Linked DNA regions of Homo sapiens. The protein of the gene in region 1 interacts with the protein of each later gene in a biochemical or structural test. Each region holds a gene or a part of one and is shown on either strand. Other genes may lie near its edges.

Evidence for each region. Proteins that work in one complex are often made in the same cells at the same time.
Region 2: the proteins of MTR (region 1) and MTRR are reported together in a solved structure, tested with the Homo sapiens proteins (one study listed by BioGRID).

What each region holds. Positions count from the first base shown.
Region 1 is NC_000001.11:236,790,955-236,798,298, forward strand, and holds the start of MTR (methionine synthase), read left to right. Parts: upstream 1-4,337; 5' UTR 4,338-4,366; coding exon of another isoform or gene 4,367-4,749; coding exon 4,750-4,783; intron 4,784-7,344. UniProt on the Homo sapiens protein: Catalyzes the transfer of a methyl group from methylcob(III)alamin (MeCbl) to homocysteine, yielding enzyme-bound cob(I)alamin and methionine in the cytosol. MeCbl is an active form of cobalamin (vitamin B12) used as a cofactor for methionine biosynthesis.
Region 2 is NC_000005.10:7,879,125-7,886,161, reverse strand, and holds part of MTRR (methionine synthase reductase), read right to left. Parts: intron 3,008-7,037; coding exon 2,885-3,007; intron 2,439-2,884; coding exon of another isoform or gene 2,299-2,438; intron 462-2,298; coding exon 308-461; intron 1-307. UniProt on the Homo sapiens protein: Key enzyme in methionine and folate homeostasis responsible for the reactivation of methionine synthase (MTR/MS) activity by catalyzing the reductive methylation of MTR-bound cob(II)alamin.

The DNA.
Region 1 (7,344 bases):
ACATGGTGAAACCCCATCTCTACTAAAAATACAAAAATTAGCTGGGCATGGTGGCACATGCCTGTTTAATCCCAGCTACTAGGGAGGCTGAGGCAGGAGAATCACTTGAACCAGGGAGTCGGAGGTTGCAGTGAGCGGAGATCACGCCACTGCACTCCAGCCTGGCGACAGAGCAAGACTCCATCTAAAAAAAAAAAAGTAACCTAAAAGACTGGTTCAGACCATGAACAAAAGTGAGGGTCTGGGCCATGCCTCATTATACCTCTCCGGCATTAACATCAACACAGACCTTAAGTCTGATAAGAGGCATTTACAATCTATTCTCTCCGTAGCCTGCTACCTGAAGGCTTCCTCTGCACAATAAGAACTTTGGTCTTCACAATCCTTTAACCCAGACATTTGCTTTCTATTGATCCCAGGTCTTTAGATAAACTCAACCAATTGTCAACCAGAAAATTTTTAAATCTGCATATAACCTGGAGGGCCCCCCACCCCCACCCTGTGCCTGGCTTCAAGTTGTTCCGTGTTTCTGAACTGAACCAATGTATTTCTTAAATTGTGAACCGAACCAATGTACTTCTTAAATGTATTTGATTGAAGTCTCATGTCTCCCTAAAATGTACAAAACTAAGCTGCACCTCAACCACCTTGGGCACCTGTTCTCAGGACCTCCTGAGGGCTGTGTCATGGGCCATGGTCACTCATATTTGGCTCTTAATGAATCTCTTCAAATATTTTACAGAGTTTGACTCTTTTTGTCAACAACACTATGAAGGGATTTGAGGGAAGGAAATAGCGGGGCTCACCTTTGTGACAGGGATCTTCTGGGGGAAAACCCATGGTCACCCCAGTAGACTCCAGAAGTAGTACATCCTTGTTCCAGATCTGGCCCATAGTTTATATTTGCAAGACTCTTGACTAGCAGGACACAAAGAGCCACCTAATGGGTTTGACACAACCACCAAGACCAGAGAATAATGCATAAAGCTGGAATGTCAATTTGCTACTGCTATACAGTAGGAGTTGGATATTTAGGTTCACTGATCTCCACTTCTATCTATGAAGACAAATCCACAGGGAAAGAAGTCCCAAATCACCAAGAGGTTGTTTGGACCCTAACCTCTAAACAATGGGTTTGTGTTGGATGAGTTTAATGAGAATGAGCTTAATGAGGGGGAAAAAAGCAGGCTAGCAGGCTATCACCAACTTAAAATAGCAGGTTCTCTCCTACAGAGATAGAGACCCTCGTTAGTCCCAGCCCATCCACAGATATAGTTGTATTAGTTTCCAAGGATTGCTTTAGAGTTTCCGAGGAAGTACAAAAACTGAGTGGCTTAAAACAACAGAAATTTATTACCTGACAGTTCTGGAAGCAAGAGGTCCCAAATTGAGGTGTAGGCAGAGTAATGCTTTTTCTGAAACCTACAAGGGAGAACCCTTTCTTGTCTCTTCTAGATTTGGATGTCTGCTGGCAATCCTTGGAGTTCCCTGGTTTGCAGGTGCTTCCCTCCAGTCTCCACCTTTGTTGGCAAGTGGCTCTTTTCTCCTCGTGTATCTCCCCTTCTCATAAGGACACCAGCTACGCTGGATGATGATCTCATAACTAAACTAACCTGCAACAAACCTATTTCCAAATAGGGTCATTAAGGTCATATTCTTTTTTTTTTTTTTTTTTTTTTTGAGTCTGAGTATCTCTCTGTTGCCCAGGCTGGAGTGTAGTGGCTCAATCTCCACTCACTGCAACCTTCACCCTGCCAGGTTCAAGCGATTCTCCCACCTCTGCCTCCAGTAGCTGGGATTACAGGCATGTGCCACCACACTCGGCTAATTTTTGTGTTTTTCTTTTTCTTTTCTTTTTTTCTTTCTTTTTTTTTGAGACGGAGTTTCACTCTTGTTGCCCAGGCTGGAGTGCAATGGCACAATCTCGGTTCACTGCAACCTCCCCCTCCCGGGTTCAAGTGATTCTCCTGCCTCGGCCTCTCGAATAGCTGGGATTACAGGCATGCACCACCACACCCGGCTAATTTTGTATTTTTAGTAGAGACGGCGTTTCTCCATGTTGGGCAGGCTGGTCTCGAACACCCGACCTCAGGTGATCCGCCCACCTCAGCCTCCCAAAGTGCTGGGATTACAGATGTGAGCCACCACGCCTGGTTAATTTTTGTATTTTTAGCAGAGATGGGGTTTCACCATATTGCCCAGGCTGGTCTCGAACTCCTGGCCTCAAGCGATCCACCAGTCTCGGCCTCCCAAAGTGCTGGGATTGCGGGTGTGAGCCACTGCACCCGGCCCAAATAGGGTCATATTCTGAAGCACTGGAAGTTAGGGCTTCAACATATCTTTGAGGGGGACACATTGCAACCCATACAGTATTCTTGGAACTGTAAATCGCGTTTTTGTACTAGAAATTCACTGCCCCTTTAGGCACTATGTATTCCTCTAATCTTATTTGTTACTCTTTTACGACTTTAAGAAATACAGAATTTGGTCAGTTTTAGCTGAGAGAGTAAACTTTGATGACTTGCATCAAACAGGGACTGGCACACAACTCCTGGAATTTCCAGTAAGAGAATGTGAATGGGGGACAGTTGCCGACTAGGTGCCTGAAAGATCATTTTTCAAGAAACACGTCAACAAACTTTGAGGGATACATGATAATTAAAAAACTAGCTTCAACCCGGGAGGCGGAGGTTGCAGTGAGCTGAGCCAAGATCGTGCCAGTGCGCTCCAGACTGTGCGACAGAGTGAGACTCCGTCTCAAACAAACAAACAACTAGCCCTTATAATCTTTTTTTTTTTTTTTTAGACAGGTGCATCTTTACACAGTTAAATTTCACTACTTCTTTTTTTGCAGATAAAAACTCAGGAGTTGAGAAATGAATAAACATAATAATAAATATGAGAAAACCATCATGATTTATCAAGCCTGGATAAATAATTTAATAAGTTCAGCATAGAAGACCTTGCTTTTTTTTCTTTCCTCCTTTTCTTCTTCTTTTTTTTTAACTTATTTATTTCAATAGGTTTTTGGGGAGCAGGTGGTGTTTGGTTACATGAATAAGTTCTTTAGTGGTGATTTGAGAGTTTGGTGCACCCATCACCTAGGCAGTGGACACTGCACCCAATGTGTAGTCGTTTATCCCTCACCTACTCTCACCCTAGCCCTTATAATCTTAAGATTTTTGGCTATTTAGGGCCATCTCATTCCTCCCTCCCTTCTTTGTTGCATTCTCTCTCACCTACTCCATTCCCCCCACCTTCCAAGTAAGACCATCTTTGGTAAGATGGTCTTGGTAAGAATGTGATACGCATTATAATAATTTTTCAAATCTTCAAAATTGAGGTATAATTACATACAATAAAATGAGAATGGCATGCAAATTTGTGCCTTTTTTAAAGCTTAGTAAATGTCATAATTTGGTTATAGTTTTTATTTTTCTGGATGCATTTGCTTTTCCTTACATCTACCATGCTCAGCCTTACAGAGATTTTTCTAGATGAATTTGCTTTTTCTCACATCTACCATGCTCGGCCTTACAGAGCTGCCCTTTATTTTAGAATTCCCTAAAGTGCTGTGTTGTACACAGGGAGCTTCTCCTGACTGGAACAACCTTACCTGGTACCACTCTTCCTTCAGGACCCAGATTCTTCTTTGAAACCTTTCCCTGGCCCCTTTGAATACTCTAGCTCTTTTAAAATGTATGTGGTTCTTTTTTCCCTGTTCAATTATTAATCTAACTAGGTTGTGAGTTCCTCCTCCAAGGACGTGAGGGTGCGATGTAGCTTGTCTGATTTTGCATTCCAAGTGTGTGCCCCAATGCCTGACACATAGTAGGTGCTCAATATATGTTTACTGTCAATAAGTTACAATTAACACCCCCATATGGTAATTCAGAGTTTTCATAGCGCGGTCAAACGATCTCATTTAACGCCTACTACAACCCTAAAAAATTCTAATTACTACCATCCTATCATTCTTGTTTGTAGAGTGTGGAGACTGAGAGGTTAACTGTCTTGCCCAGCGCAAGTCAACAGCAAAACGGAACTAAAATTTCAGGCTCGACACCACACAGCGTGTCGAGATCAGCACGAACTTGGCGCTGTGACTTTTCCTTAGAGGGGCCACTTAGGCTTACACTTCCGGATCCTGGGCACACAGAGACGCGAAAAGCTCCCGCGGGAAACTGGGGAGCGGGACTACATCTCCCAGAGAGCCCCGGGGCTAAACAGCAGGTGATTGGTTGATATTGACAGCCAATGCGGCTGCGAGGAGCTCGGGCAGACCAATCACAGGCCGGAAGGGGCGGGACCTCCCACGCCGAGGATAGATTGAGCGCAGAACTAACCGCGCTCTGAAAGGTTCTAAATGTCTGCGGGGCTCAGAGCCGGATGTCACGTCGTCCTCCTCTGCCGGTTTTCTCTTGGGTCCTTTTCCGTGCCGTCCCGCGACTCCGCCTCTGGCCGCGCGTGTCTGGCTGCTAGGCCGACACCAAGGACTGGCCGGGTACCCGGGAAGAAAGCACGTGCTCCAGCAGTTGCCGCGCCCAGCCCCGAGAGAGGCCCTAGGGCGCTGCGGGCTTTCGGGGTCCGCAGTCCCCCCGCGACGCGAGCCAACGGGAGGCGTCAAAAGACCCGGGCCTTGTGTGGCAGGCTCGCCTGGCGCTGGCTGGCGTGGCCCTTGGCCGTCGTCACCTGTGGAGAGCACGTCTTCTCTGCCGCGCCCTCTGCGCAAGGAGGAGACTCGACAACATGTCACCCGCGCTCCAAGACCTGTCGCAACCCGGTAACGCTGCGACCCCGTCTGCGTGGTTGGGTTGTGTTTCTTAACTCGTGCTGTGGCCTCCTAATCCCTGGGGCGATTCCCTTCTGCGGCGGGAGACGCCCGGCGGTGTTTCCCCGCGTGTGGGCGGCACCTTTAGAACTTAGCGCAGGAGCCCGGAGGGCTACGTGTTTTGCTCCACTCTTTGTCCGACCTTCACCTCTTTCTCCCCAGGCAAGCCATCAAAACCTGCAAAAAGCGTCCTCCCCTCGCCCCCGAAACACATTCTTAACGTCACAGTAACTAAACTTTCCAGTTCCACGCAGCATAAACCAGCTGGGCCCTCTGGAAGTTTTTTTTTTTGCATGGTGTGACGCTTATTCGTAAATATGTATTGCGCACCTACTGCGAAAGAAAGTTCAGGCGCGGAGAGACAGACGAGGAAACTCAGAGAACTATTTAAAACTACTACATGGAACTTTTTATTTTCTGCTTCTACGCACGCTGCTGCAAAACTGCAATATGCATAGACTCACTATGTTAAAATAGATGAGCAGACCCCACCTCCAGATACCGAAATGGGAGGTAGTAATTTCAAGCGATTCTGATGTTGGTGGCCCTGGGATCAACAGTGAGAAAAAGCTAGTTTAGCACGAGAACTGAACGTAATGTTAGCTTTATAACGAGCTCTAGATCTCTAAGGTCATGCCTGATTATAATTTGAGGACAAATACACCCGTAAAAACGGGTGAGGAGATGTAGAAACGAGAATTAGTGATAAGTACAAAACAGTAAATATCCTATCACATAGTGGGGATGTTTAGCTTCAGGAAGAGGGGGAATACTAAATTCGTAACGCACAAGGAAATTTATCAGAGGTTAACCGGTGACTCTCTTGATTCTTGGGTTCTGATAACGGGACTGATATAATTGTTCTTGAAACTAGTGGAACTGTGGCTGAGAAACACATCACTGCTGTTATTAAATAAGATATAAACCTCCCTATGAGAGGTTTATATGTTATTTAATATATTAAATAAGATGTAATGAGGTTACATCTTATTTATATTTAATATTTAATTAATAAATGTAAACCTCCCTATAAGAGATTTATATCTTATTGAATAAATGATCATAGGGAGATCATATTTATTTGGAAAACATCTTTTACTCATGATTTCTGGCCTCCCCCTTCCCATTTAATTTAAACAAGTAAAGTTATTTCCCTTTCATCTGAATTTAGGTGTCATTATCAGGAGCAAAATGCCACTGAAGACTTAAAATACTGTGAATAGTGAGTGATTTAAAAAAAAAAAATAAACTGAAAGGAAAATTGTTGAATGTTTGAATCTTGCCTAGTCCCCTCACCCCCAAGGCTGGCTTCTAGAGTTGAGCACTGAGTGGAGTTTAACCAAGTCTAGGGCCTCTGAAGTTCTGAATCAGGCCATTGTGCCTAGAAAAGACCTTAGATGTAGTCCAGCTTCTGTCTATGTGAGCAACTTTTATTGGGATTAGAATCAGGTTTTAACTTCCTAATAACCCTTAGTAATTTACTGGCGTACAATCTTAATGAAATTTTAATGGAGAGCTGGGAATTCCTGATTCTCAAGGTTGGGCCTTAAAACTAAATGTGACTTCAGACCATGGTTGTGTGCCCTGGGGAAGGAGGATGGTGGGCTAGCAAATACATCTTGGGAGAAAATTTTAACTACAGCTTCTAAAAGTTTCTTGGTTTCATCCTTGCTTAGGACTGTGAGTGTTATTTGGAACTCAATTGATGAGTGATTAATGAAGGAATGAATAATCCAGTGAATTGGTATCAATTGATGAGTGATTAATGAAGGAATGAATAATCCAGTGAATTGGTATCAGCCTAATTCTTCTCCGGCTTATTAAAATCAAAGGGGGAAATAATATATATTAAAAATGGAATACTGCACAAGCAAAGAGATGCCCCCAAAGAAGCTGGGCGCGGTGGCTCATATCTGTAATCCCAGCACTTTGGGAGGCCGAGGCGTGCGGGTCACCTGAGGTCAGGAGTTCGAGACCAGCCTGGCCAACATGGTGAAACCCCATCTGTACTAAAAATACAAAAATTAGCTGGGTTTATAGTGAGCGCCTATAACCCCAGCTACTCAGGAGGCTGAGGCAGGAGAATCGCTTGAACCCTGGAGGCTGAGGTTGCAGTGAGCCGAGATCATGCCACTGCACTCCATCCTGGGTGAGAGAGTGAGACTTAGTCTCCAAAAAAAAACAAAACAAAACAAAACAAAACCAAAAAAACAAAGTGTAGCAAGTCTGTGCAAACTAGAAATTAGAGATCCAAAAATGAAAGAGAGAAGTATCTTGCAAGTGACTTGTAGGGCAGTAGTAAGATTGTTTTTAATAAAGCAAAGAAAGAACAGTGCTGAGAAAGCCTTGGGATCATTTGATTATAATGCAGAAAATAAAAATGTGCTTTTGCTGTATGTGTTCCCCATTTAGCACAGTGGAAAGAGGGGTCCTAAGTAAGTCAGATCTATTTGGGGTCATTTTACCTTCAGAGCAGATGTGTTCTTGACACTGCAATTTATAACTTACATGCA
Region 2 (7,037 bases), on another chromosome or scaffold:
GGAAAAGAATTTTTAAAAATAACCTAGGCCAATGCTTCTCAAAAACTACATTTACACTCAGTTTTCATGTCCACAAATGTCCAATAATTAGAACATCCATTATCTTCTTATTCAGTGCAATTAACATGAAAGTTAAGAAACTACCAATACCAGCGTATGCCTGTGTTCCCAGACCTTGATGCGCAGCTGAGCCCCAGGCATCTGTGCGGCCAACACACAGGACCCTGAACCTTAGAGCCACACTCTCACCATCAGCTCCAGTCCACTGGCCCACAACACCCCAACGTCACAGCATCAGGGCTGTTACCTTTCTTCTTTGTGTCTGCCTTTATTTTCAAAAGGACGCAGTGCTCTCTTTTATCTTCAAGCTGCAGTCTTTGGAGTAGGCTTTGTACCTCAGAATCACTGTTAGGGCAGATCACGCTGAAGGCATCTCCAGGCTGATAGGAAAAGTCTGTATTCTAGAGAAGAGCCAAAATGAAAAAAAAAAAATACATTATACGTGTTACATAGTTTAAGCTGTAGGGTAACAAAAATATAGTTTTCAATATTATGATTTTAATATGTGAACTCAGAAAATAGAATTTCAAAAAAAAAAACACACAATTGTTTTAAAAAATAAGCCCAACTAACCAAATAAACATACTTTCATTATTAGCAGTTACTATTAAAACGAAATCTGGTAGTTACCCAGTGTTTTGCCTTTTATCATACTTAAAGAATGGAAGTCAGACCTTCCTTGTTCTCTACAAAGTAAGGTCCTATGGTGTTTTCAATAACCCATGTAAATATAAAAATCCCTCTTACAAAAACATACATGCACACACACACGAAAACATACATTATGACCAAAAGAAACTAATTATGGTCAAATGCATTGGTTTTCAATTTTCTTCTCCTTACTTTACTCTTTTCCTTTAGGGGACAGGAAAGGGTACTTTATTTCCTTAAGTATAAAACATTACACTATCTGGCTCGATACTGGTTGTGAGCAAACATGGGCTGAAAAAGTCACCACTTCCCAAGTCAAGTCTATTACTAGGCCCATTGCCTCTAAGCCCCAGAGTGATACAGATGCAGGCCAGGGCTCTGGGGAGGAGCCTCTCACAATGACACAAGCTCACATTTCTTGCCAGCAAGGGAGAGAGACTGGACTAAGCACAGACCAACCCTTGCCTCTTTATGACAAAAATGTAAAATACCAGAATAAAAAATATTTTGGTGTACATAGTATTAATATTTATGGATGCAAAACCATCTAGTTTTGACACATTGTATTTTTTTCTGTTAGGAAGTTTGATTAAATCTACACCAACAGCCTTAATGTGCCCTTGCTTTTCTGAAAGAATAACCCACTTAACCTCTCAAGACTTTCATAAAATAAACGGTTGAGCTAAATGACTTTGAAGAGGTACTCAAACACTTATTTTAGGATTATCAGTCAGTTTCTTAACCTAAGGTCAATGGATTCCAGCAGGGTGTGGAGGGTAGGAAGGGGGCCCATGGAGGGGGTGCATCGAGGCACATCTCAGACTAAAACTGTACGTAAATGTTTCTATATACAGTTGGCCCTCCATATCCTCAGGTTCTCCACCCTCAGAATCAACCAAACCTGAATGGAAAATATTTGGGACGGAAAAAAACAATAAAAAATAACAATAAAAATAATGTAAACTTAAAAATACAGTATAGCAACTACTTACGTGGTGTTAGATACTGTAAGTAATCTACAGATGACTTAAAGTGTAGGGGAGGATGTGCATAGATTATATACAAATACTGTAACATTTTACATAAGGGACTTGAGCTTTGAGGATTTGGGTATCTGAAAGGGGTCCTGGGACAAATCCTTCGAAGATACTAAGGGACAAGTGTAATCATTTTTTGGGAGAGTCCATAATTTTTTCCAGATTCTCAAGAAATCAAAACCACTGCTCTGAGGAATTAACCCTAACCTGCCTGTCTGGGTTCTATTTCTTTTCTTTTTTTAAAAAAATTGAGGCAGGGTCTCACTCTGTCACCCAGGCTGGAGTGCAGTGGCACAATTACAGCCCACTGTAGTCTCAACCTCCCAGGCTCAAGCAGTCCTCCCACCTCAGCCTCCCAAGTAGCTGGGACCATCGGTACACACCACCATGCCCAGCTACTTATTGTATTTTTTTGTAGAGACAAGGTCTTGCCATGTTACCCAGGAACTCCTGGGTTCAAGTGACCGCCTTCAGCCTCCCAAAGTGCTGGGATTATAGGCGAGAGCCACCTCGTTTGACCTTAGGCTCTATTTCTAACTTCCTGGCTGACCTTAGTGGACAGCTTCCTTTCCTGGGCCTCTTATATATAAAATGCTGTTCTGATCCCATTATTCTTTCATGGCTTATTGAGTAAGCCAGCATCTTCCTCTCAGGCTGAATCTCCTCCAGCCATTCTTCCCTAGTCCTTCCCTGAAGTGGAAAGAAAATAGGTGTGAAAATAGAAGAGAGAAAAAAATGATGGGTCAGGAATAAAATGGCAAGATGTCCTGTCAGAGACCTCTCATTCTTCTGAGCATGTATAACCAAGCACCACACAACTCAGCATACATAACCAAGCACCACACAACTCAGCATATGTAACCAAGCACCACACAACTCAGCATATGTAACCAAGCACCACACAACTCAGCATATGTAACCAAGCACCACACAACTCAGCATATGTAACCAAGCACCACACAACTCAGCATATGTAACCAAGCACCACACAACTCAGCACATGTAACCAAGCCGCACACAACTCAGCATATGTAACCAAGCAGCACACCACTCAGCATATATAACCAAGCACCACACAACTCTTTCTGCACATCCTGACAATATTACTGTGCTGAGAAATAAATTTTGCAACTTACTGAAATGTCCAATTCTACCAGCAGAGTGGTTTTTATGGCATCATTCGTAGTAAGTTGAACTGCCTTTGAAATTGGCACTTGAAAAACTGGATCTGCTGAAGTCACAGATACTTGGCTTTCCTCCTTGAAAAACAAATGTGACAAAACGTAAGTGCAATTTTCAATTATACCCTTCTTTCAATTAGTGACTACGCAAGATCCACAGGGGCTTACAAAACTTCCTGGCTACTCAGTATTCATTTCCAAGGTAAATGAATGAGGGCAGATATATGGAGCTAGCTTTTCAGAAGAGAAGCTCAATTCTATCTCAAACGCTTTATCTATTAGACATTAGAATTTCTGAAATACAAATAGAAAATAAAAATACTGGCATGTTCATGTAAAGATCTAGTAGTTTTCCTAATAAACTACGTCAAGGGAAACAGAATGTCTGCAAATGTTTCAGGAAGGAGAGATCTTGAAGAATGTGACAGATGTTTAAGAATGCAACATGTGTGTAGATGGTCACAGGAACCCCCTAGTGTGGGGCAATGCTGTTCATATGGCTGCTGAAATATGGCTGGTGAAATACAGGTAGTGTCACTAAGAAACTAATTATTAATCTTAACAAATGTTCATTAATTTAAATTTGAGTAGCTATATGTGGCCAGCAGCTCCTGTACTGGACACAGTAGGTCTTGGAAAACTGCAAAAAATCCCAGTTCTTTATAATACTCCCTACTCCTTTTCTATATTCCTAAGTTTAAAAACAAAATATTTTAACAGTACTAGTCAATTAACTGTGGATAAGTGGCTATATGGGAAAGCTGGGATGAAGGTCAGTTCTGGGTGTCTGGGAGCCATAATGTGGGGGTACTGAGATGTACCCCTAAGAAGACTGCCTTCTGCAAAGGCTATGGCAGTGCTGACAATGACTACCTCTGCCACCTGAAAGAAACACTTCAGCATTCTTAGGTCACACCTTACCCCTGCCCACACCTCCTTTCAGAGGCAACCCACATCCAATGTCTCATCAAAGACTACAAAGGTCCAGCCTCTTCGTTCCAACTCAGGACAACTCTGAAGACCCACCAGCTCCAGAGAACCCTGTGGGATTGGCTGAGGCCTTTGCTGAGACTGCACAGCAGCTCAGCTTCTCACTGTGCCCAATCCTGCTTCCATCCCTCCATGCCCAAAGATGATGCTGTCAAGAGGATGCCCTAAAAACATCTCATTGTTTGACTCCTGGGAACCAGCCTGTGACAGTCAGTGCCAGGGTAGCCTGGGAAAGATGCTAAAATGGAGTCTAGAGCTGGATCATCTGCCTGTTTGACAATGAGAACACCACACCAGTGAGAGAGCAGACAGACGGCACTGGCACACAGCAACAATGCAACCGTAAGTAGCAGGGAGTGCCAGTGGAAGCAAATGCATCACCTTGCAAGATCCATCAGGTGCTTGAGAACTAGAGAGAAACAGCAGAAGAGAAGACTGGTGGGACTTGGGGGGCTACTGCTAAAATTCACTCGCACTTGAAAAAAAATGCAAAAAGCTTAAAGGACAAATCACCAATTAAGAACTAAGTAAAACTAAAATAGAACTAAGCCAGGGGACATCCTCAGGAGCTTAGAAAGACACAGTCATCTCATGCAGCCCATGACAGTGAAGGCAGAGAAAGCCAAGGACTAACTGGGAAAAAAAATCTTGAATACTCAGATTCCCTTAAAAATCTTGACTACCCAGAACGCCTTAAAAATCTTGACTACCCAGATTCCCTTAAAAATCTTCCTACCCAGATTCCCTTGAACTCTTTGAGCCTGCAGATGTGGCCAGTCCCTCCCATGAAGAGTAAGAACTCCCTTCTCGCATCTGGATGGTGTAAGGACCTCTGCCCACAGCACATGCCTGTACCCCCACTACCACACCCCATCCCCTCTTCTGGTTGCTAGACCAATAACTGGGGTTGTTGCGACACACTCGGCCACTAAAGCACTGGGCTAGCTAAGGAAGGTAAGGGACTAACCCCTAAGAAAGTATACGACAGAGCACTATGCCCCCACAGGAGCTAGGAGAGAATGCACACAACACAGCTGAGGTCCTAAATTGAGGAGGGCAGAACACAGATGTAAAAAATGGGCAGCCCACAAAGGCACTGGATCAATCCTTACAATGAAAAGAAATCAAGGAGGCATGTAAAAGGAGCTGTAGGCCGCTGCTCCAATAAAAACGATCCTTTGCCCTGTTTCCAGACCTGCAACCCACTGACTGTAGGAGAGAAGAGGTCCCTAGGAGGAGGGACTGTGAGACACTATAGAAACTGTACTTGACAATGGCTTCTGCAGTCCTTCTCCCAAAGGGGAAATGTACACTGGGCTAAGGGGAATGTGCAAACATTCCAGGGTCTGTTAAGAGGGGGTTCAAATGAATGTTGTTACCCAGGGACCCAAAGCATCAGCATAGCTCATCTATGACAGCAAGGCACATGGGGGCCAGGCGGTAAATGGCGTCCTGGCCCAGGACCTCCAGTGGCCACTCAGCAGCTGGCACAGGGCAACACCGAATTATTGGCCTATGACGTTAAGATCTATCATCATGGGGAGGGCCAAGAAGAAGTCTCTGAATTTGACGCCATCCTCCTCCCTAAACACCAAGATAGAACAAGAGAAACAAAATAGCATCCTGAGAGAAATGACATCCTTAAAAAGCTGGAGGACACAGGGGATGGTCTCTATCGTATCTCCATTTAATTCACCAGTTTGACCACTGCAAAAACCACATAAATCCTGGGGGATGACACTGAACTACTGGAAACTCAAACAAGAAACAGGTCCACTGTAACCTCCGTGCAAGCTGGTTTTCCTTAACAAAGTAGACTAGCATGGCCTCAGGTACACGGACAATGATTTAGTCAAAGTGCTCCTTCCCAACCCTATCACTAAAGAGGATCAGAAACAGTTCACTTTGCGCTGGAACAATGTATAAATTTACAATTATGCCCCAGGGCTATCATAAGTCCTGCCTGCTGTTATAAGAGTCTGAATAAATGTGGAACACCTGCAAAGCACCACACTAGCCTACTCTATCAGGGGCATCGTGCTATCAGACTGAATGAGCAACGAGGAGTAGCCAGGACAGTGCGGTCTTTGGTAAGACCCATGCCCTATGCAATTAAAGGGCCTGCAGTGCCAGCACAATTTTTAGGGTTCTAACAGTTTGGTGCACGTCAGGACATCCCCTCCCAAGTGAAGGCCACACTAGTGCACCTTGTACCTCACTTCTAGAGAGAAGCAGAACCACTGCTAAGTCTCTTCAGGATCTGTGGGTAGCACATTCCATACCTGGGAGGACTGCTGAGACCCAAATACCAGGTGACAGAAAAGGCCACCAGCTTTGCGTGGGGCCCAGAGCAGGAGAGGGCTCTACAGCAGATCCAAGTGACAGTGCTCGTTAACAGGTCCTGCCGCTCTACCACACAACCCAGAAGACCCTCTGGTTATTAGAGGTAATACTTCCACATGGCAGAAAGGTACCATATGGAGAGGAGCTGACTGAGGCCTTTGTTGAGACTGCATCGCAGCTCAGCTTCTCACTGTGCCCAATCCTGCTTCCAACCCCTCTGTGCCTCAAGGCAATGGTCCCAAGAGGATGCCCTACAAAACATTCTTTTTTTCCCAATTCTTTACTCTCTCAGTATATTATTTCATATTTATATTGTCTCTCTTAAGTACTTCAGATTTGTTAAATCTTTTAACTACATTATTAACAACTCAAGCCTATTTAATGACACTTTCTATTAAGAAAAAACCCAGAAACTTTTTTTTTTTTTTTTTTTTTTTGAGACGGAGTCTTACTCTGTCGCTCAGGCTGGAGTGCAGTGGCGCAATCTTGGCTCACTGCAACCTCCGCCTCCCGGAAAAAACCCATAAACTCTTAACAGATCTTCCGGCTAATTTAAAACTCCTAGTCAGATTAATGATTAATCTCTATCCCCGCTGCCATGAACTGATCCTGTCTGTGGTGCAACACTGCACTCTGCTCCCACCAGTCCAGGCATAAGTTGTGTCTGTTCCCAAACCAGACTGAGATACACTTACTGCAATTATCTCACTTAAACAATTCACAAAATAATGAAGTACAAGTGCAAAAACAATAGCCCATAGTTGTTTATACACAA